7 linked regions of the Homo sapiens genome follow. The protein of the gene in region 4 purifies or fractionates together with the protein of the main gene of each other region. This does not show direct contact. Each region holds a gene or a part of one and is shown on either strand. Other genes may lie near its edges.

Region 1 (3,500 bases), on a different chromosome or scaffold from region 4:
CTTGCTGGTTATTTTTTGCTCTGTTAACTTCTTACTTACATCATCATTCTGTTGTGCCTCCTGCATGACAAACTCTCGTACCATGGATGGATTATATTCAACCAAGTATGAGAATATATCAGTAGCAGCACTTCGCACCTGTGTATCATCCATGCCCTGCAGACAAAAAACATTTATTTTTCCTGTATTTATAAAAATACGGAACCTATAGCTATGTAAATATCCAAACCTAACAAAACATATGAAAAAACTTCAATGTAAAAGAAAGGTCAAAGAAATTCTTCTGCATATAAAACTCTTATTGTACGGATAAAATTATACTTTCTAAATCATTTATTTGTTTGCCTATTTTAACATTTCAGCTAATAAGCTGCAAAGCTGACAAACTATCATTAAATTATGGGAAATTCCTTTACTGCATTCTTTCAATACTGTGTGAAAACTGTCTAATATTGGAATTTTACAGCTTCTTTAACTTAATGAACTACGCAGCTAATTTCAAATATTGGCTATAATAGAATATTTGCATGTAGCATTAAAAATATTAATTTTGGGATTAAAAAATGGTAATTAAAAATGAGGAGACACAAAACTTACAAGGATGACTTCTAAAGCTGGTAATATGCCCATGTTTGACAAAGTCTTGAAAAAAGCATCTCTGTTTTGAGGCTGTAGCGTTTGGGAAAACGCACAAAATTCTTTTAAAAAGTTAACCTGAAATTAGAAAAAAGGATAAGTGATATAAAAAGTTTATTTTATTTATTTATTTATTGAGACGGAGTCTTGCTCTTGTTGCCGACGCTGGAGTGCAATGGCACGATCTTGGCTCACTGCAACCTCCACCTCCCGAGTTCAAGCGATTCTCCTGCCTCAGCCTTCTGAGTAGCTAGGATTACAGGTGCCCGCCACCATGCTTGGCTAATTTTTGTACTTTTTAGTAGAGATGGGGTTTCGCCATGTTCGCCAGGCTGGTCTCAAACTTCTGACCTCGTGATCCACCCACCTCGGCCTCCCAAAGTGCTGGGATTTACAGGCGTGAGCCACCAAGCCCGGCCAGTTGTTTTATTTTTATGCCTTTCATAGTATCTAATTTCTTACCAATTCCTGTCTTTTTTCCTCATCTGTTGCTTCATCTGTTAGTTGTGCAAACAAATCTGTCAGAAATTTTTCATCTTCCTGTGAAACAAAGGACAAATGCAATTATGTTAATGCTAAGATTGTCCTAAAATATAATTTCAGGAATGCTTTAATATACACAGCAATAACTATAAAAAGGAAAGGTGGTATTGGCAATGCTGTCTTTTTTTTTTTTTTTAACAGAAGGAAAAACCACACTATTAAAGTATAAAATTTTGTCAAGGCTCTATTTTCTAAGCCTATATAAAGGCCAGGTAGTAAATATTTTGAGCTTTGCGGCCCATGTGATCTCTACTACGAGTACTCAACCCTGCTCCAGTAATATGAAAGTAGTCACAGACAACTGGAAATGAATGGATATGGCTGTATTTCAATAAAATATTACTTACAAAAATAGCAGGACCAACACTTGCTGACCCCTCACTTTCATAGGTTTTATAACCTTATTAACTTTTAAAAGGTAGTTCTACAACCTCTCAAATGAGAATGAAAATGAAGACAAAGCTACTTTAGTGTTTTAAAGATACAGAGAATGACTCAATTATTTAAAAAGCAAAATTTAGAACTTTTTGTTTTACTTCCTCATTTTATAATTGAGACTTGGATTTTAAAATTTACCCAAGCCCAATTAAGGTGGCAGAGCCTTCATGATTGTCCGGTCAATGTTTCTCATCACTATTTTTTCATCAAGATCTTGGCTTTTGTTTTGTTTTGCTTTTTGAGACAGAGTCTTGCTCTGTCACCCAGGTAGAGCACAGTGGTGCCATCTCGGCTCACTGCAACCTCCGCCTCCCAGGTTAAAGCAATTCTCCTGTCTCAGTCTCCTTAGCAGCTGGGACTACAGGCACACACCACTACACCCAGCTAATTTTTGTACTTGTAGCAGAGATGGGGTTTTGTCATGTTGGCCAGTCTGGTCTTGAACTCGTGGCCTCAAGCAATCCACTGGCCTGGGCCTCCTGAAGTGCTGGGATTACGCACATGAACCACCATGCTCGACCAAGATTTTAATTACTACCTCAGCTAGTGGAAGTAGATTCAATACCACTTAAGCCCTAGACATGCCTCACTCTAAATACACATACACATGGATGTATATACAAGCTCCCACTAGATTACTGGCTCCACATTCACTGTTGTGAGTGCTCCAGAAAAATCTTCTGTGGCACTAAGTTAGTTTGGTTATTCTCACCTTTACTTTTTCTAAAATGAACAAATAGGTCATACCTCATTAATATGATCTTGACCATGTTTGCTACCCAAATGGCATCCAATTTCAAGACACATCTCCAATATACTATATTCTACCAAATGGGTATCAAATGGTTAAAAAAGACATTCTCTGAACTGCTGCAGTTGGGGGTACAGAAATAGAGAAAATAAGAATGTTTATGGTACTACAAAGGAAGCAGTCAATGTTAAGAGGGTGTGATATTTATTTTGTGTGCATGGGGCTATACAAAGTGGGCAGGAACCTGCATTAAACTGTACCTCAATCACTTCTTGCCAAAACATTTGTAAAATGCTACAGCCTTCACAGCAGCACTTTGGATAGAAGTGTCCAGCATCAAGAGAAACAGACATATTGGCAGCCAGTATTTTACAAAGCACATTACAGGGAAGCAAAGATTTAACAACTTGAAATTATTCATACTTAATGAATAAAACTGGCATTTTACATGTATGAAGACCAAGAAAACACAGAAGTGACAAATCCCCACATAACAAAAACAGAACCATATGGAGCTAAAGAAAAGGATCAGGAGAACTCAGTATTTTAGTTCATACTTTTCCTTTTTTTGCCTATCACTGGCTAATATTTTAGAAATACAAAATTTTCTAAACAGGAACAGACATGATTAAACATACTGCTTTATATGTAATGTGTGCTACCAGGCAGCTCTTACTACATTTATTGTCTTCCTTTCTATACTTAACAAATTCAGGTTTCAAATAAATTTTACTTATACACCTGAGGTAAAGTCTTAAAAGATCTTCCAAGTCATATTACACTTATCTGCAGCGGTGCGACCTTGGCTCAATGCAACCTCTGCCTACCAGGTGCAAATGATTCTCCTGTCTCAGCCTCTGGAGTAACTGGGATTACAGGCATGTGCCTCTGCCTCCTGGATTCAAGCGATTCTCCTGCCTCATTCTCCTGAGCAGCTGGGATTACAGGTGTCCACCATCACGCCTGGCTAATTTTTGTAGTTTTAGTAGAGACGAGGTTTTGCCATGTTGGTCAGGCTGGTCTCGAACTCCCGACCTCAAGTGATCCACCCACCTCAGTCTCCCAAAGACCTATTATTCTTACAATACCACAGGCATCAAAGAATAAAAAACAACGTGTGTGTGTGTGTGTG
Region 2 (4,648 bases), on a different chromosome or scaffold from region 4:
CATATACAAACTTATTTTGTAAAGCCAGTATTACCCACCCTACATAAAAAACCAGACAATGACATTATAAGAAAACTACAGGCCAATATTTCTGATGAATAGACACACAAATCCAAAAACATACCAGGCTAATGAAATCCAGCAACATATAACATAAAGAAGGTCTATACACCACAACCAAGTGGGATTTATCCCAGGAAGAAAATTGCCTATTTGCAAATCAACCTTTCTCCTTTGTGCTTCTTATGTATAAGGATCATAATTTATCTTAAGATCCTCAGCCACTTGCCAATAACAAAGGTATGTCATTCTCTTTATGAATGGCTCATCTGCCTCGACCCCATTCTTTACTTCCTTAAACTGCTTTAATTTTTCATCATGTCACTTTTATCTGGCATTACATGTTCATTTATTCCCTGACATATCCCTGGTGCTTTACGGACAACTTGACATTTTGATAGGTCTTAAATATTTGTTTAATGATAGCAACTACATAAATCCCAAATTCTATACCAATTCCTAAGTTGCAAAACATTACTTACCTAAGTTCTTCAGGTTTTGTAGCACATGCTAACAGAAGAAAAAAGATAACACCTCATTAGTTTCATCTTACATGATAAACTGCTGCACTATTCAAAGCAAAACTTTAACTAATTGCTTTACAAGCCATGTTTCACAACCATAAATTTATTTCTTTGAGAAAGGGTCTTTCATGATTTTGTAGAGATAGGGGTGGGTCTCACTACTGTTGCCCAGGCTGGTCTCAAACTCCTAAGAGTTGAGCTTTTGGGCTCAAGCAATCCTCCCACCTTGGCCTCCCAAAGTGCTGGGATTAAAGGTGTGAGCCACCACATTTGGCCCCAACCATAAATCTAAAAACCTTCAATTCACCAAAGTGTTTTGGGATTCACACCATAGAGGCAACAATGGCAATTATTTTCATTTTTCAAATAAAGCAATACAATGCATATATATCTCCTCCTTTTAAACAGAACCAATCTGTAAGCCTCCAGAGTGAGCTGACTGATTATGAATTATCATCAGTGGAAACCAAGAGGAAACTTAGGGTTTTAAAATCATCACAATTCATTTATAGCTGTATATTTAATTTACAGCCACACCAAAACTTATGAGTATAAATCATTTTTATAAAAAAGTCAATACTGCCAAACATCAGATCATTACAGCTGTTTTTGGACAACTGGTGATGACTCTGACAGTGGAAATACTTAAAATTAAATTTGCATTTTAATGCAAATTCATTTTAATGCAAATTCAGTTTAAAACCAAACACAAGGTTTAATTTATTTGTCAAGGTAAATAGTGCTTTTTCTTATATAACTGATCTTAATCAGCAAGTAACAATTATGAATTAGGAAATGTCTATGTATAACAATGATGAATATATTTTAAAATGGTATTTAATACAATCCTTAATATTATAATACAATATGAAATAAATTTTACTTAAAAAAAATTCATCACAAGACAATGTTTTGGCCAGGCATGCCTGTAATCCTTTTAGGATTCGGGAGGCCAAGGTGGGTGGATCACTTGAGGTCAGGAGTTCAAGACCAGCCCAGCCAACATGGCAAAACCCCATCTCTACTAAAAATACAAAAATGAGTCAGGAGTGGTGGCGCATGCCTGTAATCCCAGCTACTCAGGTGGCTGAGACATGAGAATCACTTGAATCTGGGAGGTGGAGGTTGCAGTGAGCTGAGATCATGCCACTGCACTCCAACCTGAGCAACAGAGTGAGACTATCTCAAAATAAATAAATAAATAAATAAATAAATAAATAAATAAAAATGTTTTTAAAAATTCCTAAGGGGATTAAGGGATGTTTTAGAATGAGATCTGTAAGTCAAAAAGGGAGAGAATATGTTGCTCTACAGAAACAGTTTTGTATACAAAAACTGAACATAACCTCAGACTATCATTTGAATTGGGATTAACATAAAGTTTAATCTCTGCTAACAATACAGGCAATTTTTCTCTGTGTATCCCATGAAATTGATTCTGCCAGAAAAGTACTTTAGTTGACTGGAACAGACCTGAGGAGGAGATTCAGGTAACTTCCTCTTATGGAAACAACACCAGCACATAATTAATTGCCAAGGAAAAATAATCCTTTGAAAGAGGGTTGCACTTCACCTTTCATTTGTAGAGTTCGTCTAGAATATCGTTTGCTGGGCCTTCTTTCAAAGGATGTTGATCTTCTTGCTTTATTGGTTTTTGTGGTCTGATACTCTGTTTTCCCACTAAATGAGGCATAACAGAAGTAAGGGAAATTTTAGGTCTACAGTAATAAACACACACAAATAAGACAGTCCACATTCAGGTTCTCCTTAAAAGAATCATCCTAAACTTCATCGCACAGGAACAGCTACTAATAGTCTCGATCTCTCTCTTTACCATATCATTCTTTCGGCTTTTGTGAAATATGCAACAGATTATGTTGGTTTTATTTTTCTCATATGCATGCATATCACCTAAGTACACATTAAATAAGTTTGAAATATCTGTCCTTTTATGGAAACTCCCTCTCTTTCCCATCTACATTCCTCAGTGCAAAGTGTGTAATTAAAAGAATATTTTCAGTTACTTTTTCTAATTGTGATATTCACTTTTCAGTATAATTTTCCAGAAATGTTTTTTAAGACTACTGTCTTATTCTCCTTGATTTCCATTTAAATTCTGTTTAGAAAATGCCTCCTTACTTTTAATATAAGTAGACTACAGTACTACTTCTATTAACTCCACACAATCAACTGGCCACATTATTGGTACAATCCATTCCTTCTTTAACTGATTTCCATGGCATGCAGAAAACTCACAACCAATAATCCACTCTGCAGTAAACCAAAACATTTCTAACTCATGACAACAAACAAGGAGTCATGAGAATAATGACCTTCAGGTTTATAAAGGACCACAAATGTTATCCAGACTAATATCCCATTCAGTGCAAGAAACCCTTTTCTATATGGTATCCAGTGGTGGGTGGAGAGTCCATAAAACTCTTGTTAAATAGATAAACTGGGAGTGGGTTAATATATAAAGTAAACATCCAGAGGGATATAAAAGCCATTATACAATTACTGTTTACGCATCTATTCAAGAAATTATAACCAATAACAATACCACTTTTTCTATTTTATTTTGGCCAATGGAAGACTCTGGCAAACCACCTTATTCCTCTATACCTTAGTTACCATATCTGTAAAAAAGAGAAGATTGGCCTAAATTTTTTGGCCTGTATGCAATGAAAGACAGATAAAACAGCAATTAAAATTAACCTATATCTAAATCGTGATCCTAGTCGAATAAATCCTGATCGATGAGAACTCTTTTGGACGGGGCCTCGAAGGCGGAAGAAAGCATGATGCTCCACAGCACATTTCCATAAATGTTTGCATGCTTTTGGATGATCCAGTCTAAAGACAAATGTATGTTCCTGTTCTTTGCCCTGAAAAAGAAAAGTATATATAAAAGGATGATTACTAATTCAAACAGTCCTATCTCCTATTTCTGAGATACAAACACATCCATGAATAAAGGATCTAGTGTGCTCCCTGAAATTCAGACACTCTTTATAGTATCAACATAATAAGGGCAGAGCTGAAATCAAGTTGCTCATTTTATCAGCCAATACAAAATTATTCCTAGGAGTTATTCCCCTCTACTTACATGATCTCATTTGTGAGAGAGACATAAAATGAGATTTTATCTGCCATTATTTGGGATAACTGTATAATTATAATTTGAGGAATCATATCAGATCTGGCAGTATGCATCAACAGCCCTAAAAATGCTCACATTTTTGTCATAGTAATCACACTGCCATGAGTCTAATTATAATAGTTAACATTCATATAGAAATTTTTCTAAGGATTTCACATAAATTATCTCAATGAGTAGATACTATCATTAGCCCCATTTCATAGATAAGGAAACTGAGGCTCAAAGAAATTAAGCCCAAAATCACAAAGCTATTAAGAAAGAAAACCGGAAATGAACTTAAACATTAGTCTTGCTCCAGAATCTACATACACCTCTAACAACTAAGTTATACTGCCTCTCTGGGGAAAATTATTTCCTAAACATCAAAAGTTATATATGAAGATGTATATTTCCTCAGTCTCATTTATAATAGTAAAACTTGGTACAAACCCTAAACGTCCAAAAAAAGAGAAATGGTCAAGTAAATAGAGGCATATGTAAAAAATTATGCAGAGGGATAAATGAATAAATGATGAATGAATGAATGTGCTATTGTTTATTCATATTACACAATAGCATATATATATGTTAGATCTACATAGGTACACGTTTAGATAAAACAGGCAAGCTGCAAATATATATAATTATGCAAGTTTTTAAAACAATTCTAACATGAGTTAATATTTGGAAAAAGTTACAAAATATATATGAGAATAATACCCTCCAAAATTGGTGACCAGGTACCAGAAGAAAGGGGGTAGGTAGTCAGGGGGTTAGACTTTAGTTGGTATTATTTATTCATGCACATAATTGTATTTATCTTTCTCTAAAAGAGAACTGAAGCAAAATGTAAAAAATGTTAAATCTAGATCATTAATAAGATGGTTATCTATTTTATAATTTTTGGTACTTTTCAGGTTAT
Region 3 (4,648 bases), on a different chromosome or scaffold from region 4:
CTTTTTTTTTTTTTTTTTTTTGAGACGGAGTCTCACTGTGTCACCCAGGCTGGAGTGCAGCGCGCGATCTCGGCTCACTGCAAGCTCCGTCTCTTGGGTTCACGCCATTCTCCTGCCTCAGCCTCTCCAAGTAGCTGGGACTACAGGCGCCTGCCACCACGCCCGGCTAATTTTTTTGTATTTTCAGTAGAGACGGGGTTTCACCGTGGTCTCGATCTCCTGACCTCGTGATCTGCCTACCTCGGCCTCCCAAAGTGCTGGGATTACAAGCGTGAGCCACCGCGCCTGGCCAGGAAAACTTAAAACAAAAAGATTAAAACAAAACAAAACAAAACAAAAACAGGTCACCCAGACGGTTTGTTTAGTGATAAAGCCAAAATTTGAAGCCAAGTCTGACCCATGTGCTAAATCATGCTACCCTGAGTCTCCTCAAAATGTTGCACAATGTGTATTTCAAAAATGAAAACTAGGCCAGGCGCAGTGGCTCACGCCTGTAATCCCAGCACTTTGGGAGGCCGAGGCAGGCAGATCACGAGGTCAGGAGATCGAGACTATCATGGCCAACATGGTGAAATCCCATCTCTACTAAAAATACAAAAATTAGCTGGGCATAGTGGTGCGTGCCTGTAATCCAAGCTATTCCAGAGGCTGAACTAGGGAGTCGGAGGTAGCAGTGAGCTGAGATTGTGCCACTGCACTACAGCCTGGTGACAAAGCGAGACTCTGTCTCAAAAAAAAAAAAAAGAAAAGACAAGAAAACTATTCAGCTGGGCACAGTGGCTCACGCCTGTAATCCTAGCACTCTGGGAGCTAAGGTGGGAGGATCACGTGAGGGCAGGAGTTTTGAGACCCGGGATGCCAACGTGGCAAAACCTCATCTCTATTAAAAAAAAAAAAAAATTGCTAGGTGCGGTGGCTCACACCTATAATCCAAGCACTTTGAGAGGCCAAGGTGGGCGGATCACCTAAGTTTGGGAGTTCGAGACCAGCCTGACCAACATGGTGAAACCCCATCTCTACTAAAAATACAAGAATTAGCCAGGCGCAGTGGCACTCGCCTGTAATCCCAGCTACTTGGGAGGCTGAGGCAGGAGAATGGCGTGAACACGGAAGGCGGAGCTTGCAGTGAGCCGAGATTGCGCCACTGCCCTCCAGCCTGGGCGACAGAGCGAGAGACTCCGTCTCAAGAAAAAAAAAAAAAAAAGAAAAATACTCAAAGAAGCAAATATGGGAGGAAACTAACGTTTATATATATAAAGCTTTAGAGTGTGAATCCAAAAAGGAACAGAAATGATAATTAAAAAAAAAATATGAATGCTACCTCTGTGTACAGCTGACTCCAGGCACATTAACAAGTAGGAGAGCCTGGCTTCACGCGATCGCGGAAGGTTTTCCACATTGCACCGGTATTTCTTCAAGTCACTTTTACAGGATTTGGCCAATGAATAACTGACTTTATAATCCTGGGCAATCAGCTTTTGGCGGGTTGTAAGTGCTTCTCGACACTGAGGAAAGAGTACAGCAACAGCCGTGAGACCACTCATGTAACTTTACTGTTGACGTGTACCACTAAGATGAGCACAGCGACTCAGCCAAGTACATGTCAACAACTGCAGTTATTACCAACATATCTATCTTTAAGTTTGGTTAAAATGTTCACAATTGAGCTAAACTAGTGTGGCATGAGACAGGGGTAAGTGGGTGGGGAACCTAGAAATTCTGTAGTCACTTGCTAGTTGTTGCTGCAATAGCAGCTATCCAAAACATGTAAATATCTCACAGATCCCAATATGTTAACTTGACACACAGCATTCTTTTCCACTTTAACAATACCCCGAACATAAATTTCACTAGCATCAAACTGGCAACTAACATAACATTTGGGATATTCTGTTCAATGCTTTAAAATACAATTATTCAATTATTCTATATCATCTGAATAATAAGATTTGAATAAGATTGTTCAAATGATACAAGAAAAAGGAAATGAGAAACATTTCTTCAGCTACACAGGAAAGTAAATGACAAGATAGCAAAATTAATTATTTCAAAAGCCATCAACTATTCTTGCATTCATTCAGGGACAAAGAACTAAAAGAGGATGCTTAATGATATAGCTGCTGAAAAATTAAATAGCTAATTGCCTAGAAAGCACATTGATTTGGTTAACCTAAACTTCTTGAGGAGGCAGGGCTGGCCTTAGTGTGGTTTTATATAAAATTCTCTGATTTTACTCCCCAAACAAAGTAATATCTGAGAATTTTATATAAAATCACACTGAGGATTTTATATAAAACCACAGTGAGAGGCGGGTGGATCACCTGAGGTCAGGAGTTTGAGAGCAGCTTGGCCAACATGGTGAAACCCCGTCTCTACTAAAAATACAAAAATTAGCTGGGCGTGTTGTCAGGTGCCTGTAGTCATAGCTACTAGGGAGGCTGAGGCAGGAGACTTGCTTGAACCCGGCAGGCAGAGGCTACAGTGAGCCGAATCATGCCACTGCACCCCAGCCTGGGTGACAGAGAAAGACTCCACTCAAAAAAAAACAAAAACAAAACAAAACAAAAACACCTAAAAAAACCACCACAGTGAGAACCCTACTTGGCTTCTCACTATCTAGATATCACAATCAGGGTTTCATTTTCTTGGTTTCAGCCAAATATGCTTAAAACCCAAGTACCTCACCTCTGAAAGCGGTGAGCTTTATCAGTCATTTACGTTTCGGTATAAGATTATAAGAAATATTGTTTCAGAGAAATTGAGAAAGCTTTTTTTTTTTTTTTTTTTTTGAGACAGAGTCTCACTCTGTCACCCAGGCTGGAGTGCAGTGGTGCGATCTCAGCTCACTGCAACCTCCACCTCCTGGGTTCAAGTGATTTTCCTGCTTCAGCCTCCCGAGTAGCTGGGATTACAGGCGCCCACCACCACGGCCGACTAATTTTTGTATTTTTAGTAGAGACGGCGTTTCACCATCTTGGCCAGGCTGGTCTTGAACTCCTGACCTCGTGATCCACCTGCCTCAGCCTCCCAAAGTGCTGGGATTACAGGCGTGAGCCACCGTGTCTGGCTGAGAAAGCTTTTAAAAAACAAATAAAACATTCATTAGTTTCAAAATAATACTTACCTTTTCACTCATGGATTCTTCAAATTTATGGTTAAAGAGGCACTTATACACTCTGCCCTCACCAGCTTGTGTCTATAAGATGGAACATACACATTATTATTACTTTAGCTAAATAGTTATGCTGAACATTATCCACAATCTCATATAGAGCTTTCTATTAAACGATTATAATCGTACATACCTTTGGACAAACAGCGCTTCCATTTATAAAATTTAATAGGCTTTTAACAAAAACAGTGACTGCAGTAAAGACGAAAAAAATATTCCCATGATATTTGGAGTTTGTCATTTGTTCTCAGATGTATTTTGTTAATTAGGGAACCAAGAGAAGTGTTAGAGTCTGAGTCTTTTTTTTTTTTTTTTTTTTTGAGATAGAGTCAGTCTTGCTCTGTTGCCCAGGCTGGAGTGCAGTGGCACAATCTTAGCTCGGTGCAACCTCTGCCTCCTGGGTTCAAGCAATTCTCCTGCCTCAGAGCCCCAAGTAGCTGGGATTACAGGCCCCCGCCACCCTGCCCAACTAATTTTTTTATTTTTAGTAGAGATGGGGTTTCACCATATTGGTCAGGCTGGTCTCGAACTCCTGACCTCAAGTGATCTGCCTGCCTCGGCCTCCCAAAGTGCTGGGATTACAGGCGTGAGCCGCCGCACCCAGCCTCTGAGTCTTCTTTCTTACAAGTGTATGCTAGAGTTAACGAAACTCTTACATCAGTGGCTCTGATGGTTAAAGCTGTTAATGCAAACCAGCAGGCAGAGTGGAAGTGTACACAAGTTACTTTCAGTACTTTGTTGTAAGGATGGAGAGACCATTCTATTTAAAGACTTAGAAGGCTGTTCTGTAGAGTCAGCAGGTGGTAATCAAGGATTTGGTTTTAAAGATTAGCCACCTGCTGTTTTCTTCACCTTAGCCAAAAACACATAAATATATAATGCGTCAAAGTTTTAGCCATTGAATAGATGTAAATAAGATCCTGGGTAAAATAAAATTCCTATAGATAAAACAGACTTCCAAGAACTGAAATTGAGAAGTGAGATAAAGCAGAAAAAATACTAAGTGGAGATCATTAGAAGCCAGCTGTTAACCAAATGTTCAGTCATCAAGGTTGAGCATCCAGTTACCACTTTCTGCTATACTGGGACCAATTTCTTCTTCCATTTCTGTGGCTTTTCTACATGTGAGGTTTCTTGATGGCTTATTTTACGTTAGAATAGAGTATTAAAAAATATTTAAGTCACAGTGGCTCGTGCCTATAATCCTAGTACTTTCAGAGACAGAGGGAGGAGATCACCTCAGGCCAGGGGTTCAAGACCAGTCCGGGCAATACAGCAATGCCCCATCTCTACAAAAAATTTTTAAAAAAATTGGCCAGGCAAGATGGTGCTTGCCTATGGTTTTAGCTACTTGGGAGGCTGAGGCAGAAGAATCGCTTGAACCCAGAAGTTGGAGGCTGCAGTGAGCCATGATCACACCACTGCACTCCAGCCTGGGCACCACAGCAAGATCCTGTCTCAAAAATTGGGGAGGCT
Region 4 (4,648 bases):
TTTCATTGTATCTAGTAAGTTGACTAAATTTGCTTATTAACTGTAATGATTTTATTCTTCTGCATTTTTCTATGTACAGAACAATGTCATCTGTGAATAATGACAGTTTTATTTCTTTCCAAATTTTAAACCTATTGTATTTTCCTGATGATATGGCACTTTTTGGAACCTCCAGTAAATTGTTGAATGGATAGTGGACATCTTTGTCTTGTTTTCAAACTCAGGGAGAAAATACTGATACGTCACTATGAAGTATGGCATTTAAAAATTTTTTGTACATATGCTAACCAGAATAGGAAAGTTGCCCTTTTTCCTAAGTTGGTGATAGTTTTTATCACGAATGGACTTTAAACATTGATCCATGTATGAAAATGATCATGCGGTGTTTCCCTGTTTTTGTTGTTGTTGTTGTTGTTGTTGTTAATGTGGTGCACTACATTTGTCGATTTTCAAATGTTAAATCAGTGTTGCCTTTCTGCAATATACTCCACCATGGCTGATGTATGTCCTTTTTAAGTACTAGTACATTTTATTTGCTCACCCTTAGTTTGGAATTTTTGTGTCTAAGTTCGGGGTGATCTTGGCTTGTATTTTTGGCTTGATCTTGTAGTTTTTCATTCTTCTAAATTCCTTGTCAGATGTTGTTATCAGTTTTGTATCAATCTTCTAATAAGGGTTCCTAATAAGGGTTAATACACGTTGGTTTATGCATCTATTTGAATATATAAGCATAAATACTTATATATTAAATATATATGATATATAATATATAATTTAAAATATAATGTATAATAAGGGTTAATACAGATTGGTTTATACATCCATTTTTTCTAATAAGGGTTAATACAGATTGGCTTATACATCTTCAAATAGGTAATAATATTTTTATCTATTTTTGGTTGATGACAGCTGCTTATTCCACAAGCATTCTGATTGATTTGGTTATACCATCTTTCTTCTGTTTTACTTTGTGTACATTAAAATTAGGTTTCTTTTCCTGAGAACAGAGTGTTTGTTGAGACTTGGTAAATCTTGGCTCATGATTAAAAGTGAAATTAATGATTCAAAGTCTTGGTTGTATACACATATGCAGATTGCTTGCCATTTTGTGATTGTTAGATTTTTGTCATGAATAGAATATATTCATTGATGTTTTTCAGGAAACAATGACCGATAAAACAGAGAAGGTGGCTGTAGATCCTGAAACTGTGTTTAAACGTCCCAGGGAATGTGACAGTCCTTCGTATCAGAAAAGGCAGAGGATGGCCCTGTTGGCAAGGAAACAAGGAGCAGGAGACAGCCTTATTGCAGGCTCTGCCATGTCCAAAGAAAAGAGTAAGTAAGCCTGTCCTCACGTCCTCCTCATGCTCCTGCCTCATCCCCTCCAGAGAAACTGTCCTTGTCAAGGTTAACAGTTTCGGCTGACATTGCCATTAACTTCTCAGCAGCATTTGACAGTTGTTCACTCGCTTCTTCATGAAAACCTTCTAGGATTTCCATTTCCGACAATCTTTTTTTTTTTTTTAATTTCTTGTCCGTATTGGTGAATCCCTATCATTTTTTTCTTGAGATGGAGTTTCGCTCTTCTCAGCCAGGCTGGAGTGCAGTGGCGCGATCTCGGCTCACTGAAATCTCCGTCTCCTGGGTTCAAGTGATTCTTCTGCCGCAGCCTCCCGAGTAGCGGGATTACAAGCACCAGCCACCACACCCAGCTAATTTTTGTAAGTTTAGTAGAGATGGGGTTTCGCCATGTCGGCCAGGCTGGTCTGGAACTCCCCCCCTCAGGTGATCCACCCACCTCAGCCTCCCAAAGTGCTGGGATTACACGCACGAGCCACCGCCCCCGACCCCATCATTGTTTTTTTCTACATTTCTTTTTCTTCTCTTCTCTAAATACTGTAAAAAATTCCTGAACCCCAGCATCTCTCTCTCTCCTTCTATTCCACTCTGCCACGATCAATCACTGAGCTCCTGAGATACCTCCATGTTTCCCATTATTTCCCGCATCAAACACATACCCTCCAACCCTGCAGCCGGGTCATGATGTTGGCATGTAAATCACGTGATGCCATGTCGCTCCTGAACACCCATCCTCAACACTCCTAAGCACTCAGAACCGACTGCGAAGCAGCTTTGGTCTGCGAGGTTCTGCGTGGCCTGGCCTCCGTCACCCTCTCCTCACACGGGCCCCATCATCTCCTGACTCTCTCTGCTACTGTCCTTCACCCCATAGTGCCCGGTCCATCCCCACTCCAGCCCATATCCTTGGCCTCACCGCAACCTGGAACTCCCCCTCTGCCTCTGCGCAGGCAGCTCTGCTTTTTCCTTCAAGCCCTGCCCAAGGGTACCTCCACAGAAGGCTCTGCCCAACCAGCAGCAGCTCCTGGGGCTCCCTCTGCTGCTGTTGCCCACAGGCCTGTGGACTGCTTCCTTACCACTAGCCCAACACTGTATGTTTCATTTGCTCATTGTGCACGTACTGTCTGACCGCCCCATGAGGATGTGAGCTCCACAAGGGCAGGGAACGTTGCTCTCTGGGCTGTTTACTGCTGATCCCCAGCTACCGGCACGCTGCCTGCCACAGACGATGAATAAATGAGAGGTGTCAGACCTGGAGTGAAAAGAAAGTCACTTTTGTGAGAAAGAAAGGAAGGATGAGGAAAATCATACAGTAAAAGGGACTTTTTGGTGGTGGAGTGCGTATAGAACTTTTAGCAGTAATGGCCGCCTCTATTTTCTCAGAATGTGTTTGATATAACAGGAGACCGGTTGAGTTGTATCCCAGTTGCCTGGGTTCCAGCTCAGTAAAGCATGGCAGTTTGTAAGTGAATTTGAGAAATCATGATATCAAGTGAGACTTGCTGCTTTCAACTTGTAAAGCATAACAAGCTGAAACTGTCCCATGAGTACCAGGGATCTGTGAATGTTGCTTTAGAGTTGTACTGCCTTACTTGGTTTCCATGTCTATTCATAGGGCCAGAAAATAAGAGGTGGTTTTATTGTATTATGTGTCCTGGCCTCCGTTTGTCAGGCCTGGGATTTCTCCCTGGTGTATCCTCCCATTTATGAAATAAATAATTCCCTAGAAACTGAGGAGCACATAGATGTACCCAGAGGGGTGATGAAACACACATATCTCACAGCTCAGCTTCTCAGTTTGATTTCCAGAGCTGTCATTCATGAGGTCTATGTGGAGGGGAAAGAAAGTGGTCAAACACCAACTGATGGCTTTTACTCAAAATCTGTTTCACCAGAGCTTATGACAGGACATGCTATTCCACCCAGCCAATTGGATTCTCAGATTGATGACTTCACTGGTTTCAGCAAAGATGGGATGATGCAGAAACCTGGTAGCAATGCACCTGTGGGAGGAAACGTTACCAGCAGTTTCTCTGGAGATGACCTAGAATGCAGAGAAACAGCCTCCTCTCCCAAAAGCCAACGAGAAATTAATGCTGATATAAAACGTAAATTAGTGAAGGAACTCCGATGCGTTGGACAAAGTAAGTAATATAAGAATGTCTGTTTTATAAAACTATAGGAAGTCTCTCTTTCTATGATTCAGAAGATATTCATGTTGCCTGTTGAGTTTCATTCTTTGCCAGAGTTGAGATTGCACATAATTTATGGTGGTTCCTCTTTTCTTTGACTAAAGCATGTACATTTTTTCTTTTTCTTTTCTTACTTGGTTATGGTTAAAGGAGTTACATTCGTATGTATGTGCAGGTGTCTTTTTTATTATTTAGGTTTTGTATGTGCAGGTATCTTGATTTAAGCATTTAAAACATTTCAGCCTCTGAAGCATGATTGCTGAGGTGTAGATTCACTTCTATTCTTCTTTATATTTGATAATACTGAAGTTTTTTTTTTTTCAACATCTTCAGAATATGAAAAAATCTTCGAAATGCTTGAAGGAGTGCAAGGACCTACTGCAGTCAGGAAGCGATTTTTTGAATCCATCATCAAGGAAGCAGCAAGGTGGGTAGAAATAGGAACTGTCCAATTTCTTTAAGCACTTGGGCTCAATAGAGCACTGGGGGTGAGCGTTGGGGAACAGCCCCTGCCTTGCGTTTCTCAAACCCTGGTCCTCACTCACAGTTATGGCTGTCTCCACAGTTACTTAGGCTAATGTTATCTGAGTGTAACTCATTCTTCGAAGACTATGGAGACTTCCATTTTCACCATAGTCTGAGGTGCGCATTGTCCCTCAATTGACACTCTTTGTATTTGCTAGACTACCTCTTTTTAAAAAATTTGTGTAGGCACATAGCAGATGCATATATTTCTGGGCTATATGAGATATTGTGATACAGACAACAATGTGTAATAATCACATCAAGGTAAGTGGGGTTTCTATCACCTCAAGCTTTTATCCTTTGCGTTACAGAGAATACAATTATACTCTTCATTATTTTTAAATGTGCAATTAAATTATTACCGACTATAGTCACCCTGTTTGGCTATGAAATACGACATCTTATTTATTCCATACTTCTACGTATTAATCATCCCCACTTCCCACACCCTCCACCCCCACTAACCTTTGTAGCCTCTGGTAACTGTCATTCTACTCTCTATCTCCATTAGTTCAGTTGTTTTACACTTTTACTCCCAAAAATAAGTGAGAACATGTGAAGTTTGTCTTTCT
Region 5 (4,648 bases), on a different chromosome or scaffold from region 4:
AATTTATCTTTACATATGGCAATTAAAGCCATTCTTGTAATGTAATAGTTCTAGGCTAAAATAAAAATTGGCTTTCTTATTATTTTACTGGGAATTATTTTAGATAAAGGTGGAGATTTTTGGAACTTTCTTTTTATAGGTAGACTCAGTTCAGCAGGAAAACAAAATGAATAATATAAAAAATATAGACCATTTGGAAATTAGCAGCATTATGAAAATTTAAAAATAATAATAATAATATGCATACACTCTTTTTTAGCCATAGTTCAAAAGAGGCTAAAGAAGGAGAAGAAGGCAAAGAGAAAATTGCAGGAAGCACTTGAGTTTGAGACGAAACGGCGTGAACAAGCAGAACAGACGCTAAAACAGGCAGCTTCAACAGATAGTCTCAGGGTCTTAAATGGTAAGAGGGTGTATATTATTGCATGAATAACTGTCATTTTTAATGCTTAAAGGACAGTTTAGGCATGTGTTTGTAGTTTTGTATGTTTCTATATCTTGTGATTCATTCAGCTATACTTGAAGCTGAAAGCAGGGTGGGAAGAACGTGTTGGGGAAAATGCCTTATTTTATAGGTGCTTCCACTGTTTTTTACTGAACTCCAGCATCTGGGACTTGGCATTACTTCTCTGCTTAACCAGATTTTTTTCTACTGAAGCACAATAAAATAGTAATTTGAGAATTTCCGAACCCCATCCTCTTTTATGAACAATGTTGCATTGCTTACTGTTCAAATCTTCCGAAAATTCTTACGGTTACAGTTTTTGTTCAACCTTTAAAAGATGACAAAGATTTACGTAATTTTAATTCAGCACCAAAGTAACAGGTTGCTCTTTTTTTTTAAAGGACAATAGGAATCAAATGAAATATGTGTCACTCTTACCTTTCTGTGCTTTTAGACTCTCTGACCCCAGAGATAGAGGCTGACCGCAGTGGCGGCAGAACAGATGCTGAAAGGACAATACAAGGTAGGAATTTGCAGAAGGCTATAAATCTAGATCTTGCTATATGAGTTTTTCCTCAGCTTTAGCCTGCTATTCAAGCATGTAGCCTACCATCTGGGCCACATCAAAACAAGTTCAAACAAGGTCAAGTTCATCTTGCTTGTTTATATGAGTGAATTCATTTTGTGCTGATAGATTTTCTTTAAATTAACAGGTCATCTCTGTTTATACAATGCAATTAAAAGGAATAATTAATTTTAAACAATGTATGATTTAATCTTGGACACAGTAAATGTGCTTTATTGAATGTGTGAAGCCCAGTCTAATGCAGGAAGGGTTTATAAGTTCTGTGCTACATAAATAAAATATGTGGTTAATCAAATAGGTAGTTCTTACAATTTAAAAATGTCTAACTACTCATTTTTATGACAGTTACTGCAAGGTACCTGCAAAATAGACTAGTTGAATGTTAACAATAAATAAGACTGTTTAGTTCCTATGTGGATTCCAAATGTTCTGTATGCCATTATATACACTTTAATAACACAAATCTGCTGAGTAAAATCATATATAGCATACCAAAGGGAGTTGTATTAAATGCTCAGAAGAGCTAAATATGTATATTGTCATGATCGTACTATTAGAAAAGAATAAAACCAGAAGGTAGCATTTATAGGCAAACATCTATTCCAGACGACAAATTCAACCTAACAACATGAATACTAAACAGTAACAAGAGCATTTGTTTTCTATTTAAAATGAAGGTGATTCTTCAAAGGGATGCCTAAAATGATTAACTGCCATAATCCTCCCAATTGCTTTTATTCTGCATTTTAAACTCAATCATTTTTAGGATATCATATGACGTTAATTGTGTTACTTAATCAGCTCCAAATATGTCATTCTTGGCTTAGTGTAAAGGAAATATACTTTTGTAAACTATCATATGTGCAAGAAGTAACAATCACAAACTTGAAGAAACATTTTTGAGGAAAGAATGGATTTTTTTTTGCCTATATTTATTTTACCTGAGGCCATTCTAATTAATTTGTAAATCCTAAGGTTTGAATCATATGTTATTATGAGACATCTTGGATATACAAGATTAATGCTATTGTAGATATAGAAAAAGATCTGAATTTTTAGAGTACTATGGATTTCAGCACAATTATATTGTGTATGTGTTTGTATGTATATGGTTATGACAATTAAAAGAATCCTCTTGCATCTTATAAAACTTACATACACATGTTCAAAATTACTGTTAATGAAAAAACCAGTCCTCTTTATCAGGGACAATAGCACCAACAAGACAAATGCAAATATCAGCACCAATGTGTACATGCAGGGGCTATTCACGCATTAGATAATGTCAAAGTGGTCTCAGAAAGCACATGAGCCCATAGATAAGTGTGACATATAAATCATCTGATATACACAGAATCCTCAAGGTGGTCAGAAGTCAATCTAGAAAAAATTGAAACAATATCGTCCTGCATATAAATGAGAGATTCGTTGTTAATATTAAGAAGTGATTAAACATTTTTGTATGGTTGATGATATAATATGTATGCCACCCATAACAACATGTTGGTTGTTAATAAGGCTATGGTTATTTTTGTTTGAATTTGTCAAATTTACATATGTTCAAACATACATTTTAATATAGGTAAAGTCTTGCTGTATGAGGCTGAAATGTTGACAACTTTCAGTTTCCATTGTTGTGACTGACTTATTCTGAAGAAAAGTTTTAATCACAAATTGCTTTCCTTTTAGTATCCAGAATCTTACCAGTGGAGGAATACAGTAAACCTATGCACCAACAACTTAATGGTTAGGGAAACAAAACATTTGTACAACAATTATACATAGTAATTTAAAACCATATACACATTTTATGGAATTATTTTTGCCTTTAATTGTAATAGAAAATCCTCACTCACTTTATTCATTCATTCAGCCTGTCCATTGTTGTACTGGTCAAAATGTACAGTTGTTTTTTAATAAAACATACTAACTATTCATTATATTTATCAGATAATATGACTTTTCCCAAATTGTAATAAGAAAAAACACTGTCAATGAATCTGTTTCTAGCTGTTAGTTGCTAAAAGATATTTTACCAGCAGTCAAACTATTTCAAGACTCTTAACATAACAGAGCAAAGAGATCATATTTGCTATTCTAACACCCTATTCAATAAGCTTTATTAGCCCTTTGAAATTTTTTTCTAACCTCAGACAAAATTCATACATTTGGAAGCTAACAAACAGAATACAATTAACTGTGAACAAAAGCAATCAAAGAAAGAATACTGTATTTAGTTAAATGTTGTCTAAGGACAAGAAAGGGAAAGGCAAAAAAGAAAGAACCAGAACTCATTACTAATTTGTGAAACGGTCTATGTCATGCCTTTTGGGAGCCATGAGCACCTGCTGCTTCACAATTCAAGAATGACACACACACAGCCTCTCACACTCATCACTTTCTCTCTCCAACTGTCCCCAAGCCCAGGTGTTATGACATTCTTTGTATTATTTCTTGCTCCAAATCCAACCATAACTGAAATTATTTTCTATTCCAAAGTAAACTCAATTTATTGGGAAAGACAAAATAAGCCCACAGGTTTTTTAATTTTTTCATGTATTTTTAACATTTCTGGCAATAAATAAATGCCACACTTGGCCCAAGAGTTAGTCACCTAGAAGTTGGGCACTTAAATACTTACTGCTTGAGTGCTAAGTAATTACCCCTAAATATGCACCTCTGGGTAGACTAAATATTGCCTCATTGGCATTTTGTATCACCATTTCTATAAAACCACAGAGGTGGACAAGAGGAATCAAGAAAGTAGTTTAGAAAGTATTTCTGAAGAAAGAAGCCCTAAATAATTTACTTGCATTTTCTTAATGAAGTAAATCAGCTCATAGTACGCAGGGTAGATTCTTTATTGCTGATTTTCAAATAACTAGGAATTCATGAATTGTAAAAATGCTATAAGTACAGAACAGACATTCAAAAATTTTAAAAAAACTTCTTCCAGGAACTGAAATATATGGCCATTAACTCTCTTATGCCTTATGTCACACAGATTTATATGGCATGATTTGTGTTGGACTTTGAAAAATTTACCCTACTCAAGAATTTCTCTAAGATCTTTTGAATCTATAAAGTAGACAGAGTTCATAAAAACAATCATCGAGCAGTGTTTTGGGCCAGTCAGTAAATATCCCTCAAAACCCCTCTGGCCCCTACACATATATATGCACATACGCGTACATTTTATGTAGCCAAATCTATAACATGATGGCTTTCTTCAGCTAAGTCGTCATCTTATTTTATTCCTTCTCCTTAGGCAACAGCATCTACTTTCATAGTTTCCTTCTTTTTTCTTTTTCTTTTCTTTTTTTTTTGAGACAGAGTCTCACTCTGTTGCCCAGGCTGGAGTGCAGTGGCACCATCTCGGTTCACCATAACCTCCACCTCCTGGGTTCAAGCGATTCTCCTGCCTCAGCCTCCTGAGTAGCTGGGACTACGGGCGTGCACCACCAGGCCCGGTGGTGTTTTTAGTAGAGACGGTGTTTCACTATGTTGACCAGGCTGGTCTCGAACTCCTGACCTTGTGATCCGCCCAGCTTGGCCTCCCAAAGTGCTGGGATTACAAGCGTGAGCCACCGCTCCTGGCCCCGTAGTTTCTTTAACTT
Region 6 (4,648 bases), on a different chromosome or scaffold from region 4:
ATACTGGCTAACACAGTGAAACCCTGTCTCTACTAAAAAATACAAAAAATTAGCCGGGCGTGGCAGTGGGTGCCTGTAGTCCCAGCTACTCGGGAGGCTGAGGCAGGAGAATGGCATGAACCCAGGAGGCGGAGGTTGCAGTGAGCTGAGGTCGCGCCACTGCACTCCAGCCTGGGAGACAGAGCGAGACGCCGTCTCAAAAAAAAAAAAAAGACGTAATGCCACTGGGAAAGGACTGTAAAGAAGACAATTAAAAATCAACAAGTGCCCAGCTGTTTATAATAGCCTACAAAGTGATTCAAAGACAATTTGTTACCTTACCTCTCTACCATTACAAAGTGACCAAAATTAAATGCAACCATCCTTTTAACAGGGTCTTTCACAGAGCGTAAGTTTTCATTTTGGTAAAGTCCAATTTATCAATTTTTTAATAAGTAATGCATTTGGTGTTATGTCTAAAAGTTATTCACCAAACCTAAGGTTCTGCAGATTTTCTCCTGTTTTATTCTAAAAGTTTTATTTTATGATAAAATCTATGATCCATTTTGAGTTACTTTTTGTATAAGGTATGAGATCAAGGTTCATCTTAAATTGTGGTTAAGAGGATGAAAAGGCAAGTTACAGATTAGGAGAAAATATTTGCAAATACCTATCTTACAAAGGGTTCAGATTTAAAACATATAAAGAGCTTTTGGCTGGGCACGGTGGCTCACGCCTATGATCTCAACACTTGGGGAGGCCAAGGTGGGCAGATCACCTGAGGCCAGGAGATTGAGACCAGCCTGGCCAACATGGCGAAACCCCATCTTTACTAAAAATACACACAAAAAATTAGCTGGGCGCGGTGGCACACGCCTGTAATCTGAGCTACTTGGGAGGCAGAGGCCCGAGAATCTCTTGAGCCTGGGAGGCAGAGGTTGCAGTGAGCTGAGATCACACCACTGCACTCCAGCCCGGATGACAGAGCAAAACTCTCTCAAAAAATAAGATAAGCCGGCGCGGTGGCTCACACCTGTAATCCCAGCACTTTGGGAGGCCAAGATGGGCAGACTGCCTGAGGTCAGGAGTTTGAGACCAGTCTGACTAACATGGTGAAACCCCATCTCTACTAAAAATACAAAAATTAGCCAGGCATGGTGGTGGGCATCTGTAATCCCAGCTACCTGGGAGGCTGAGAGAGGAGAATCGCTTGAACCTGGGAGGCAGAGGCTGCAGTAAGTTGAGACCAGGCCATTGCACTCCAGCCTTGCCAACAAGAGCGAAACACATATCAAAAATAAAATAAAATAAAAATAAAACCTATAAAGAGCTTTTAAAACACCACAGTAAAGAAGCAAACACTCCAATTAGAAAGTGGGCAAAAGGACATGAAGAAATATTTCACCAAAGAGAAAACATGGATGGCAAATAAGCGAAGATTTTCAGGCCAGGTGCAGTGGCTCACACCTGTAATCCCAACACTTTGAAAGGCTGAGCTGGGAGTATGGCTTACACTTAGGAGTTCCAGACCAGCCTGAGAAACATGGTGAAACCCCGTCTACATGGCCAGGCATGGTGGCACACACCTGTAGTCCCAGCTACTTGGAAGGCTGAGGCAGAAGGATTGCTTGAGCCCAGGAGACAGAGGTTGCAGTGAACTGAGATCACGCCATAGCACTCCAGCCTAGGTGACAGTGCAAGACTGTCTCAAAAGGATAAATAAGCCTGTAATCCCAGCACTCTGGGAGGCCGAGAAGGGTGAATCATGAGGTCAGGAGATTGAGACTATCCTGGCTAACACAGTGAAACTCCGTCTCTACTAAAAATATAAAAAATTAGCCAGGTGTGGTGGCGGGCACCTGTAGTCCCAGCTACTGAGGAGGCTGAAGCAGGAGAATGGTGTGAACCCAGGAGGCGGAGCTTGCAGTGAGCTGAGATCACACCACTGCACTCCTGCCTGGGCAACAGAGGGAGACTCCGTCTCAAAAAAAAAAAAAAAAAAAAGGATAAATAAATAATAAAAATATTCTCAACATTATTAATCATTAGGGAAATGCAAATTAAGACCATGATGAGATATTACTACACATCTACTAAAACAGCTAAAATAAAAATAATAACAGTATCAAATGGCAGTGAGGATACAGAGAAACAATGTCTCATATATTACTGGTAGAAATGTAAAATAGTACAGCCACTCTGGAAAAGTTTGTCAGTTTATTTTAAAATTAAACATGCATTTACCATCTGATCCTGCAATTGCACTCCTGGGCATTTAGCTCAGAGATATGAAAAGTTATGTCCTTACAAACCTGTACATGATTGTTCATACTACGTTATAATAGCCAAAAACTAGAAGCAACCAAAACGCCCAACAGGTAAATGGTTAAACGAGCTGTGGTACATCCACACCATGAAATACTACTTAACAATAAAAAGGAACTACTGCTACATACAACAATATGGATAGATCTCAAAAGCATTATACTGAGTGACAAAAAACAACCTCAAAAAGTCACATACTGTATGATTCCATTCATATGACATTATAGAAAATGACAACATTATAGAGATGGAGAACAGATTATGGTTGCCAGGGGTTAGGGATACCTGTTGCGGGGAGAGGCTGGGTAGGTGGGACTATAAAGAGGGAATATGAGGGAGATCTTTGCGGTGACGGAATAGTTCTGTATCTTGACAGTGGTGGTAATGGTAACACAAATAAACATGTGATAAAATGATACAGAAACAGATACATACTTATACCAAGATCAATTTCCTTGTTTTGATACTATAATGTAACTATATAAGATGTAACCTATGAGGGAAACTGGGTGAAGTGTACACAGGGACCTGTCTGTACTATCTTTGCAACTTCCTGTGAATCTATAATTATTTCAAAATAAATGTTTTTAAAAATGCAATCAACATAATTCAAAAGTATAGAAAACATTGCAGAAATTTATGAATTTGTTGAAAAGGGTGATGTTGTAATGTTAAATGCAAACCAAAGAGGGATGGGGTGGTCATAGTGCAGTCTAGAAACAGGGCTGGAGAGTTTGTCCAACCCTCCAAAATAGATAGTTCAATCAAACATTTACTGAGTACCTAGGATTTGCAAGACAAAGTGTTACTTCTGAATTAATTTACTCTCTAATACGACAAGATAGAGTATTATTAAAGACCTCTGCAAAAGCAGTTCCCTTTGCCTTGTATGCTCTTCTTCTGTCACTTTTTCTAGTTAGTTCTTACTTATCCTTGAACTTTCAGCTCAGCATCACTTCTTCAGGGAAACCTTCCCTAGTTCTTCCTATTGCCCTCCATATTAGATCAGTTTCCTCTATGACATGTTTTGAACAGCACCCTATATACTTCATTCATAATACTAATCACCATTCACAAACTGTGTGATTATTTGATATCTATTTTTCCCACTAGGCTAACATTTCCAAAAGGACAGAGGTCTGTGTAGCTTACGGCTGTATTCCCAAACTCAACACCATGCTTGCCTAGCAAATGGCAGAAGCTCAAAGTAGATGTACAGAATATATATATACAAAGTTAAAATTCATATGTACAAATGAGTAAGAAGAATAAGATTTACTGGAGTTTGGAAGAATTCTGTATCACTCTAACCTGAGAAAGCCGGTTTATACAGGATAGCAGGTTCATGTAGAAGATAAAGAATCTCGGCCGGGTGCAGTGGCTCACACCTGTAATCCCAGCACTTTGGGAGGCCAAGGTGGGTGGATCACTTGAGGTCAGGAGTTTGAGACCAGCCTGGCCAACATGGTGAGACTCTGTCTCTACTAAAAATACAAAAAAATTAGCCAGGCATGGTAGTGGATGCCTGTAATCCCAGCTACTCAGGAGACTGAGGCAGGAGAATCGCTTGAACCCCGGAGGCGGTGGTTGCAGTGAGTCGAGATTGCGCCACTGCACTCCAGTCTGGGCAACAAGAGCAAAACTCCATCTCAAAAAAAAAAAAAAAAAAAAAAGATAAGAAAATAAAGAATCTCAACTCTGAAGCTGAATATAAACTTGGGCCTTTGGGCAAAACAAATTCAATCAAGAAAAGAAACCGAGGAGCGGCTGTAGGAAGAGTTCTTTAGGAAAATTTAAGTAGACATGGACTTGCACTGAGAGTGTAAGACATTAAAGACAGTAAAAATAATTAAAAGGACGCTGTGGTAGTGCAGGCACAAAACAACAAAGTCCTGAATGAGGGTGGTCATGGGAAGAGAAAGATATAAGAAACACTAAGAATAAAGAAGCAACAGAGCTTAACAACTGGTAGATACAGGGGGATGAAAGGAGGAAGAATCAGAGATTATTCAGGAGGTTTAACAGTTACTTATCAGTGAAAGATAACACCATTAACAGAAATTGGGAACTCATAACTAATTCCCCTTAGGAGAAGGAATGTGCTTTATTGGAAGCGATGGGTGTCATCCACACAATTTAAGATGTAAGACTAGATGTAGAAGAAAGTCAAGGTTGGCAATGCAGATGTGTGAACTGATCAGTTAAGGGTACAGGAAAATCAATGAGATTTCCCAAGGAGAAGGTATAAAGAGACTCAAATGGAAATCCTTTAAAACAACTTGAATGCCTCCTTGCTGAAATTATGTTTATCAAATTATAGCGTCACCCAGACTATGAGCTCCTG
Region 7 (3,665 bases), on a different chromosome or scaffold from region 4:
CCCCACAAAGGTCAAGGGGCCCCTTAATGATACTTGATGTGGTTATCAATCACTACAAAGTAGTAGCTTCAATAAACAACACTTTCAAAATCCATTCAAAACAAAACATAAGACATAAGCTTAATTAAGGAAGCTTTCTCATATGTAAGATGATATAGAAGATTAAAGAAGCAGGTATATCTGACACAGAACAAACATGGTGTGTCTGATGTGGTCCTGGCTTTAGGACCTGGGCAGAGAAAATTAAGAATTCCTGTTGGCATAAGCGTAGAAAGGTGCTGCTAATATAGTTCTGTCCCTAGTTACTACTCTTTCTCTGTGCATCCTTCTTTGCCTTGATATGAGTTTTGGCTTCTCCATCAGCTCCAAACATTTTCTTGTTTTCTTTTCTGTATTGCCTATACTGACCAGGAAAAATTCAGCTATATTAAAACACAAATAAGTTGATGACTATACTTTTCAGTGGGATAACTTTTCCTTCTCTATGCTGATTCTCGGCATAGCCTATGGTTTGGCCAAAGCAGCCCATTCCAGGGTTCCTCTGTTTAGCTTGTTAAACATATTGACTCTCCATGCTTAGGGCCATGGAACTAAGCCTGGAATTACTCACATATTTATAAATATTACTCAGCTGATTCAATAATACAACAGAATGACAGGAGTCACCTCCTTATGTCCCAACTCATATAAAGCTTAAAATATCTATAACCAGACAAATCTTTCAGATAAAAAAGGTCAGGAAGCACAGAAGGAACCTGAAGTTGATAATTTGGGTGTCCCTACATTTGTTTAGTGTCATCTGATTTAAATCCAATTGTTCTTATTGACATTCTCATGATCCATAGAGAAAAAACCTATCAGTGGCCTATCTGCTAGCTAAAGTCAGATAAGACACATTGCCAGAGCTTGAAACTTTCTCATATGTTAAAGGATTATGGAAGACAACAAGGGAACAAGGAATGTTTAACACAGAATAAATAGGTAAATAGTCTTAAAAGTGCTTTTTTAAGGCAGTCTAAGAAGGGACTCAAGTGTTAAATGTGAGAAGCCTGTTACAAATATAGTATTAACCATCTGGTTCAATATAATGTGGATTGAGTGGTACCTGCATGACCACTGAAAGGATCACACCCCACTTCTAAAGACTGTTCATCTTTTTATTGAATATTCTGGTAAATATTTCACATTAATACAGGCTACATTACGTAGAGCCACTATATGACAAGAAATTTACTCAACTTTTTCCTTTTAAGTATGTAAACAATTATACATGTATTTATCACCCTAAAAGGTTGAAACATGTAATCAACTAATTCTCTTCTGCATACAAGTAGTATTCTGTATGTTTAGCCAAAAGCACTAAGGTCATATGATCTTAAGTTCAAAATGGCTAAACTAACCAGAGAACATAATCAGGTGGATAGGAAATCAATTTGTTCTTATACAATGGGCAATCAAATTTCCATTGCTAAAGCCTCAGAGAAAATTTCTTAGGCACATTAAAAAAAAATCCCCATGGTTCTTCCAAGGTCATAGGTTTCTTAAACAAGGCTAAAGAGTAAAGACCTTCTAACTTAGTTGACATATTTGAGATGCATGTTTCCAATATGAGGTGCCCACGTGCCAGGCCAAATCTGAAAAGGGGGAGGAAAAATTGGAATTTCTAATTAGGAATCTTTAGACAGTTACAAAATGAATATATAAATGCAATGGCAATTCACTGTTTCTGCCTAGGAAGAATACACATATATTAAATAAAGTGTTCAGTAGCATCATCTTGATATTGAAAAAGCAATCCAGATCGAAATGGTCAATTATGACTTTTGATATTCAGTACTTATACTTCTCACAAAACAAAAAGAATGATGTGACAAATCTAAAAAACAAAAGAGCATTAAGCCCATTTTACCTGCTGGGCATCAGTGCATTCAGTTGAATTTTGGATAACTTTTATCATAGGGTTCCAAGCAGGATCTGGATTGTGAAGTCCATTAAACAGAGGGCCTCCTGGAACATCAGCAAGCTGAGGATGAGAGGGTATTATGGTGCCTCCATACATGGAAATTGGCAGACCCTAAAACAGCAGGAAAAAAGATTTAATCTTAAAATTACTATAAATTATAAAATTACTATAAATCCCATAATACCAGCTTAGACTTCTCTAATATTCCTCATTTAAAGAACTCCAAAAGATCCTATAAGTACAGTATGGCAGTGTTGAGAAAACAAAATGTTTATCTGCATCTGCAAAGCTTTTCAACAAAAAACAAGAGAGAGAAAGAAACTAAATCCAATATGAAATCATCAGGAAATTTCTCATATTTGATAAAAATAACCTCAACTTTCCCATATTTTAGTTTCATGAATAAGCTTGAGCTAAGAAGAAAATGGGAACTCTACATAATTGATTGCCGACATAAAGCTGTCAGAGCAGACAAGAAAGCATCAGTGAACTCATGGCCAGCTTTTAAGAGGGGTAGAGGCCTCCCTCAAAGCTGTAGTAGCAGAGCACAAAGTGGCAAAACCCAAATCCCTCAGGTGTTTTCGGGGGATGGGGACATCTTCAGGACAAACTACTGTGGACAACTCTGTGCACTCCTGAAATTAAGCAAAAGATCTAGCAAAGCCACAGAAACAAAAGGGAGCATTATTTCAATACAAGGTATTCCTTAATGTGACTACATTGGCTGACAAAGTGTCAATCAAGTTACAGTGATGTTTGTCAACTCACTTTAGAAAAATCCACAAAACCACTTGCCATAGGCTGATGAAAAATGTTAGAGGGGGCTACCATTCCAGAATCATCTCTCTCCATTGGCTGATGTTGGGAGAATGTGCTTGGGTCTGATAATTGTTGATGCATTGGATGGTTCCCCATCACAGATTGCGACCAACCTGATAAGCCTTCTGGAAAGAATAATTGAAAACAAAGTTTTAAATTTATTTGGATAAAACAACAAAACATTACCATTGTTATTACCAAACATGACCAAATGTTACTGAAATCTTTCCTCTGAAGAGCTCAAAGCGTATTTATCACAGTCTTGCTAGCCAAAAAAAACCAGTTCCTGAAAAACTAGGTAAAGTCCTCTGAATACTCCACTTTACCCTGTCTTTTAAAAGATTAAGTACTCTCTGAAAGAACTCAAATGATTATTTAAGAGAGAAAGGACACACACTTTGAATCTTTTGTTTCTGATTAACTCTATGTATTACCTCAACCAATATTCCAGACTCTGAAATTGGACTGAACTCCTCAAAGATATAAACACCCTTCCCTAATTGAGTGTTAAACATAGGAACTAAGTTTTTTTTGTTTGTTTTTTCTAAGGAACTAAGTTTTAATGGCAAACCTACAGCTTACTTAAGATATCCCTCCAGAGAGAGAGCAAGGCAATTGTACCTGACACAGCATTGACACCAAATGACCAGATTCCACTGTGTCCAACGGGAGCGACAAAACTGGTCCCCGCCGGGGCTTGTGCAACAGACCCTCCTTGCCGAATTCGGGCCAGTCTCTCTGTTCCAATTGGGGGAGGTATCTTTCGATCTTGACTGGCACTGACTCCTTTTGGTTGGCCCAACGTTGGTGGGGCAGAAGTGGCTGAAAGAGGTGAAGATGATCCCGAAGAAACAGATGGAATAGGAGAGTCACCTGGTGGCAA

What was found.
Region 1: the proteins of CT45A5 (region 4) and PPP4R3A purify together in Homo sapiens (affinity purification with mass spectrometry, with the first as the bait; one large-scale study listed by BioGRID). This does not show direct contact.
Region 2: the proteins of CT45A5 (region 4) and EPB41L5 purify together in Homo sapiens (affinity purification with mass spectrometry, with the first as the bait; one large-scale study listed by BioGRID). This does not show direct contact.
Region 3: the proteins of CT45A5 (region 4) and GLG1 purify together in Homo sapiens (affinity purification with mass spectrometry, with the first as the bait; one large-scale study listed by BioGRID). This does not show direct contact.
Region 5: the proteins of CT45A5 (region 4) and DACH1 purify together in Homo sapiens (affinity purification with mass spectrometry, with the first as the bait; one large-scale study listed by BioGRID). This does not show direct contact.
Region 6: the proteins of CT45A5 (region 4) and ARMC8 purify together in Homo sapiens (affinity purification with mass spectrometry, with the first as the bait; one large-scale study listed by BioGRID). This does not show direct contact.
Region 7: the proteins of CT45A5 (region 4) and ANKHD1 purify together in Homo sapiens (affinity purification with mass spectrometry, with the first as the bait; one large-scale study listed by BioGRID). This does not show direct contact.

The regions. Positions count from the first base shown.
Region 1 is NC_000014.9:91,475,811-91,479,310, forward strand, and holds part of PPP4R3A (serine/threonine-protein phosphatase 4 regulatory subunit 3A), read right to left. Parts: intron 1,177-3,500; coding exon 1,099-1,176; intron 715-1,098; coding exon 598-714; intron 157-597; coding exon 1-156. UniProt on the Homo sapiens protein: Regulatory subunit of serine/threonine-protein phosphatase 4. May regulate the activity of PPP4C at centrosomal microtubule organizing centers.
Region 2 is NC_000002.12:120,089,171-120,093,818, reverse strand, and holds part of EPB41L5 (band 4.1-like protein 5), read right to left. Parts: intron 3,473-4,648; coding exon 3,303-3,472; intron 2,265-3,302; coding exon 2,158-2,264; intron 571-2,157; coding exon 543-570; intron 1-542. UniProt on the Homo sapiens protein: Plays a role in the formation and organization of tight junctions during the establishment of polarity in epithelial cells.
Region 3 is NC_000016.10:74,491,636-74,496,283, forward strand, and holds part of GLG1 (Golgi apparatus protein 1 isoform 3 precursor), read right to left. Parts: intron 3,197-4,648; coding exon 3,125-3,196; intron 1,506-3,124; coding exon 1,322-1,505; intron 1-1,321. UniProt on the Homo sapiens protein: Binds fibroblast growth factor and E-selectin (cell-adhesion lectin on endothelial cells mediating the binding of neutrophils).
Region 4 is NC_000023.11:135,778,248-135,782,895, reverse strand, and holds part of CT45A5 (cancer/testis antigen family 45 member A5), read left to right. Parts: intron 1-1,160; 5' UTR 1,161-1,166; coding exon 1,167-1,335; intron 1,336-3,254; coding exon 3,255-3,503; intron 3,504-3,884; coding exon 3,885-3,978; intron 3,979-4,648.
Region 5 is NC_000013.11:71,471,461-71,476,108, reverse strand, and holds part of DACH1 (dachshund homolog 1), read left to right. Parts: intron 1-259; coding exon 260-403; intron 404-899; coding exon 900-968; intron 969-4,648. UniProt on the Homo sapiens protein: Transcription factor that is involved in regulation of organogenesis. Seems to be a regulator of SIX1, SIX6 and probably SIX5.
Region 6 is NC_000003.12:138,189,611-138,194,258, reverse strand, and holds part of ARMC8 (armadillo repeat-containing protein 8), read right to left. Parts: intron 1-4,648. UniProt on the Homo sapiens protein: Component of the CTLH E3 ubiquitin-protein ligase complex that selectively accepts ubiquitin from UBE2H and mediates ubiquitination and subsequent proteasomal degradation of the transcription factor HBP1.
Region 7 is NC_000005.10:140,537,328-140,540,992, reverse strand, and holds the end of ANKHD1 (ankyrin repeat and KH domain-containing protein 1), read right to left. Parts: intron 3,605-3,665; coding exon 3,404-3,604; intron 2,908-3,403; coding exon 2,732-2,907; intron 2,075-2,731; coding exon 1,910-2,074; intron 1,635-1,909; coding exon 1,575-1,634; 3' UTR 1,144-1,574; downstream 1-1,143. Other genes in the region: ANKHD1-EIF4EBP3 protein, read right to left, coding at 1,910-2,074, 2,732-2,907, 3,404-3,604. UniProt on the Homo sapiens protein: May play a role as a scaffolding protein that may be associated with the abnormal phenotype of leukemia cells. Isoform 2 may possess an antiapoptotic effect and protect cells during normal cell survival through its regulation of caspases.